2 separate regions of the Homo sapiens genome follow, and region 2 is linked to region 1. A link means that fine-mapping ties the variant in region 1 to the expression of a gene that starts in the linked region. Tissue or cell type: iPS cells. Region 1 holds a variant in brackets; the other region holds the start of a gene. All regions are shown on one strand. Distances are between the middles of the regions.

Region 1 (2,682 bases):
TGCTTTGCACTGTGGACTTGCCCTGAATTCTTTCTTTCTTTTTTTTTGAGACAGAGTCTCACTCTGTCACCCAGGCTTGAGTGCAATAGCACAATCTCGGCTCACTGCAACCTCCACCTCCTGGATTCAAACGATTCTCCTCCCTCAGCCTCCCGAGTAGCTGGGATTACAGGCGCCTGCCACTATGCCTGGCTAATTTTTGTATTTTTAGTAGAGACAGGAATTCACCATGTTGGTCAAGCGGGTCTCGAACTCCCGACCTCAGGTGATCCACCCGCCTCGGCCTCCCAAAGCGACGGGATTACAGGCGTGAGCCACCGCACCCAGCTTGCCCTGAATTATTTCTTGTGCGAGATCCAAGATTCCTCTCTTGGGGTCTGGATCAGGGCCCCTCTCCTATAACAGCTTGAATTATGATCTGACAGTTCTGTGGACCAGAAGTCTGACACAGATATCATTAAGCTAAGATCAAGCTATCAGCTAGATGTATTCTCTTCCAGAGGCTTTAAAGGAGAACCTGCTTGTCTTTTCCATATTCTAGGGGGCACCTGTTTTCCTCAGTTTGTGGCCGCTTCCTCCATCTTCAAAGCTAGCAATGTCAGTCTAATTCTTTCTCACGCTCCCATCTCTCCAGCTCTCTATTCCCTCTTCCACTTTTCAGGAGGCTTGTGATTACCTTGGATCCACCTAGATTATCCAAGATAACCACCCTATTTTAAGCTCAAATGATGAGCAAATTTTTCTTTAATTATTTTAAGAGACAGGGTCTCTGTCACCCAGGCTGGAGTGCAGTGGTACAATCATACCTCACTGTGTCCTTGAACTCCTAGGCTCCAATAATCTGCCAGCCTCAGCCTCCCGAGTAGCTGAGACTAGAGGCATGAACTACAACACTTGGCTCTGATCAGTACATTCAATTCCTGCAACTGAAATTCCTCTTTGCCTTGTAACATGACATAGTCACAGGCTCTGGGGCTTGGGACATAGACCTACTGGAGTTCGTCATTCATCTGCCTGCCCTAGGGGGTCCGTACCATTTCTCAGAGCAGCCTCAACAGGGCAGAGTCCCAGGTGCCCACGGTTGGTAGGCCACTCTAACATTCCTTCCGGCTTTCTCCTTTCTGTTTCCTCCTGTCTGCTTCATGACTTATGTTTCCTAGGATCACCTCCCAAATTAACTAACTCCCTTCTCCCTAATCCTTGTCTCCAGGTCTACTTTGGGGGAGCCCAAACTAAGACAGTGACCTTGGATAAATTACTTAATTAGTCGGAACCCTGGTTCCCATCCCCATGAAAGGAAAACCTACCGCAGGGGACTGTGGGGAGAATTCTAAAAGCAGTGCTTTAAAACACTGTGCAGTGGGGTATGTAGTGAATCCTCAACAAAGGTTAGCTATTGTTGGAGGGGTGGAAGTCAGGGTACAGGCAGGGACCAGCCTGGGAC[C/T]GGCAGAGGGCAGTCCTGTCTCTGAGACACTGACCCTGGAGGTCAGAGGAGTCTAGTGGGGCCAGGGAAGGGTGGGGGAATTACAGGGTTTCCCCTGAGGACATGAATTCTTTTCTGTAAGGTGCATCTGCTCTTGAAGGCAGCAAAGTGTGAACCAGCCCTTGGGGAGAATAATGAACATCAGGAATAACATACTCAATGATTTCTGAGGTGTCAGAAAAGCCCGGCTGGCACTGGGGGCTGACATGCCCATCATGGCAGGATCTCTAAGTTCTGAGTTTCCTCCAGCCCAGTGGAAGGACAAAGAAGGCAGGTAGAGGGGCTTAAGTTTGGACATGTGGGGGTGAACATGGTCAATGAAATGGGTTGAGGTGAGATGAGGCTGCAGAACTACCCTCAGACGGTCCAAGCTGAACAGAATGAAACGGATCCACTTCAGGAGACTGGTGGCCCCCATGAAGTTAGAGTGTGGGTGTCCTATGTAAAGAAGGGAGAGGACTCAGGGACGGGGGAGAGGGTGTTGGTGTTTAAGATTTCCAGGGTTAGCTAAGCATGGTAGTAGTCCCAGCTACTCAGGAGGCTGAGGTGGGAGGATTGCTTGAGCCCAGAAGTTTGAGACCACCTTGGGCAACATAACGAGAGCTCATCTCTAAACGAATAAAAAATGAAAGATTTCCAGGGCCGAGAAGGTTCACAGCACGGCCAAGACAATGGGTGTCTAAAGTGGAGTTAAGGTCAAGGTCATCAGATTTGCACATCCATCATCTAGCAGGTGCTATTCCTGAGAATGGACCCTCTCCATCCCCTGGGATGACAGAGCAGGGGCCACTTTTGAATGGGCATGATTCAAACCATGCAGGGGAGTGACACTTCTGGCAGCAGATGGTGGCAGTGTTGGATGGCATGAGCCCCGAATGAGAAGGGCAGGTGACAGGAAGGTGATGTCACTGGAGCTGCTTTTCTGTTTTGGGGTGAGCAGGATGTGGGGTATAGAACAGGCAGCCTCTCGTCCCTCTGGGTTTCAGAGGAAGTGGAATTCTTAGGTCAGTGTTCTTCAAAAGCATCAGAATCACCCAGGGAGCCTGGCAAAATGGGGATTCTTCACATCCCTTCCCCACCACATACACCTCCGACCTGCTGGAGTCTTTTCCCATGGCTGCCATAACAAAGGACCGCAAGCTGGGTAGTTTAAATCCCGGAGGCTGCTAGCGGGAAGCCAAGGTGTCGGCAGGGCTACG
Region 2 (2,682 bases), 180 kb before region 1:
CCATGCCTGTAATCCTAGCTACTTGGGAGGCTGAGGCAGGAAAATCGCTTGAACCCGGGAGGTGGAGGTTGCAGTAAGCTGAGATCGCACCACTGCACTCCATCCTGGGCGACAGAATGAGACTCTGTCTCAAAAAATAAAAAATAAAAAAAAATCCAAAACATCTTCAGATTTTAATGCCTGATTTTAAAGAAAGGGGTGGCAGGGAAGGAAGAAACCCAAATAGGGTAGTTGCTTTAATCACTGTTACCACTAATTTTCTGAGAGCAGCAAAGCGCGTCTAAGAACTCCAATAAATCTATACTAAATTTTATATGTCCCATACATATTTTCTGGGAAAAAGGGCCCTTGAGCTTTGAACACAATCTCAAAGGAAACAGTGACTAAAAAAGGTTAAGAACCTCTTGTTGAAGGGTTTGCTTTATTGAACGGAAGAAACAGTTCTCCCTCTCCCCTCCACGCTAGGTATAACCAGCCTTCCGGATGTGCCGCCTTTGGTATCACCCAAGATCTCGGGATGGGTACCCATCCCTGCCTCCACTGCCTGGTTTGCTGGTTACCCTGCTCTTTGGTTCTGTTTCTCCATGTGTGTTTCTGCAAGCTGCCTCAATGTCCCCCTTCCTCGGCAGTTGTCCTACTCTGTGTCCCTGAAATAAGAGCGGTTCCTCAGCGGCTGCCTCATTTGGGTGAGACCCACGTGACACTCATCACATTTGTCAACCTCCCCTTTTTCCTCTCTACTCTTTTGGGGCCACTGGCCTTTGTCCCGTGCCGGAGAGGTAGCCCCCCCATCCCCCGACTCTTTACCCTCTTCCTGGTTGGGTTTGGCAGATACTTTCACGCATGTCCCGTCATGTTCCTGTCCTACCATTCCCAGGTAGTGTGAAATTCTTTTCCTGGCCCACTCGAAAGATGTGAGAAAGAAATGGTGCCTGAAGTGCGCTCTCTGATCCCCCGAAAAGAATATTACACATAACTACTAAGCGCTTTGTGTTTGGGTCCATGATTCCGACATATGACGTGGAGAAGCATAGTGCCCTGCACCTGCCTTGACCATGGCCTCCTGAGAGTCCCCAGGGCCACCAAGCCCCCCATTCCAAGTGCTCTCCTTGAATGTGACTCGGCTCTTTCCACAATCCGCCCAGCCTGGGTTAGGGAATGGGAGCTCTCTACTATATTCTTCTCCACAATATTCTAAAACCTCCTCTCTGTCCTTCTAGAGAGAGCGCAAATGGGTAAGTTTTTTCCCCCTAAAACTTGCTTAAAATCAGCGCGTCGGGCCCCGGGGCGCCCGGGATGTGAGGGCGGGGAGGTGGTTGTCGGGGCGGTCCGCGCCCCCACGGCGAGGTGCACGGAGTTAGCTCGGCCCAGCAAGCGGCGGAGGGAGGCCAGCGAGCGGGGTCTGCGAGCGGAGGCCCGGGCGGCGGCGTCGTCCCCGGGGGCAGGCAGGCCGGCCGGGCCCGGGCCAGGGCGCTGCGCCGCGGCCTCCGCGCCTCCTCGGGGCGCCGCGCGGCCAGGCCGGCGGCGGCCCCCGGGGATGGCGGCGGCCGGGCTCCGCCAGCAGGTGGCCCTGGGGTCCCAGCGGCACCGCCCCCTCCGCCGGCGCCCCTCCTCCCGCGGGGGCGGTCAGCGCCCCGGCCGGCTCTGCACCCGCCGCCGCCCTCCCCGCAGCCCGCCCGCCGCGTCTTCGGGGCCGCCGCCGCCGCCGCCGCGACCGCAGGCTGAGCCCAGGCGGGCCGGCCGCCCCGAGCCGCCCCCCGCCTCCGCCGCCGCCGCCGCGCCCCGGCCCGGCCCGCTCCCAACGGAAAGTTGGGCTGCGGCGGGCGGCGTCTGGAACCCGCGGGCCGGCATGAGCGGGGGCCGCGGGGGCGCCTAGGGCACCGGGAGGCGGCGCCGCGCGGGGGCAACTTCGCCCGGGAGCCCACGCCGCCGGGCCCCGCGCCTGCAGCCCCGAGCCGGCTCGCGGTGGTTCCTCCCGTCCCGCGGCCTCCCCTCGCCGACTCCAGGCGCGGACCTTGGTCCCGGCGGCTCCGCCGCGGTGACACGAGCCCGCGCCGCCGCTGCCGCTGCCGCCGCTGCCGCTGCCGCCGCTGCCGCCGCCTCCTCAGCCCCCGCCGCCGCCTTCCCCGCACCATGGAGTTCTCCGAGAGGAAAAGAAGCAGGAAATCCCAGAGCTTCAAACTGGTGAGCCGAGGTAAGCGGCCGCCGGGGCGGCGGGGGCAGGCAGCGGGCGCCGCGCCCTCGGCCGCCCGCGGGGGTCCACGCTGGGGGGCGCGCCCTCCCGGAGCCCCCGGTCCTTCCCGGTCCCCCGGTGCCTCCGCCGGGCTGGCAGGCAGGGCCGCGGCCGCACACGCCGGGCGGCGGGGAAAGTTGTGCGGGGGGAGCAGGGATGTTATTTAACGTAAACAAGTCGGAGGGCAGCTCAGGAAATTAGCAAACAATGACACCGGGGGGCCCGAGCCCTCCTCGGGGCGCCTCCGGGGCAGGGCTGGGGCGGCCGCGGACCTGCCTGGCCATCAGGCCGAGCGTGGACCCTCGGACCTGAGATTTGCTGTTTTTGTTTTCTGGGGTCTTCCCCCTTCCCCCCGCCAAGAGAAGGAGGAAAAAGGATGACCGTTGTTGTTCTTTTTAAGAAGGAGAAAGAAGCTCACGCCGTGTCCAAGCCCAAGGCGGAATTGTTGA

Alleles and levels. Positions count from the first base shown, and alleles are read on the strand shown. Sizes are in standard deviations (SD) of each study's normalised expression.
As copies of T replace C in region 1, the expression in iPS cells of the gene that starts at base 1,653 in region 2 goes up (large effect, 1.0 SD a copy in HipSci).

The links. PIP is the estimated chance that this variant, and not a neighbour inherited with it, causes the effect.
Region 2: it holds the start of BEND7, and the variant in region 1 is fine-mapped to the expression of BEND7 in iPS cells (HipSci, PIP 0.95).

Annotation. Positions count from the first base shown.
Region 1 is chr10:13,351,488-13,354,169 of GRCh38, reverse strand. No RefSeq gene overlaps it. Among named protein-coding and RNA genes, the nearest start is that of SEPHS1, 4.5 kb to the right of the region's middle. The variant C/T (reference allele first, on the strand shown) is at 1,445.
Region 2 is chr10:13,527,985-13,530,666 of GRCh38, reverse strand. BEND7 (BEN domain containing 7) reads left to right here and starts at 1,653. Exons shown (of 9, transcript NM_001369863.1): 1 at 1,653-2,194. The coding sequence starts at 2,134. It overlaps BEND7-DT (BEND7 divergent transcript), which reads right to left and starts at 2,063. Exons shown (of 2, transcript XR_930674.3): 1 at 2,015-2,063; 2 at 403-647.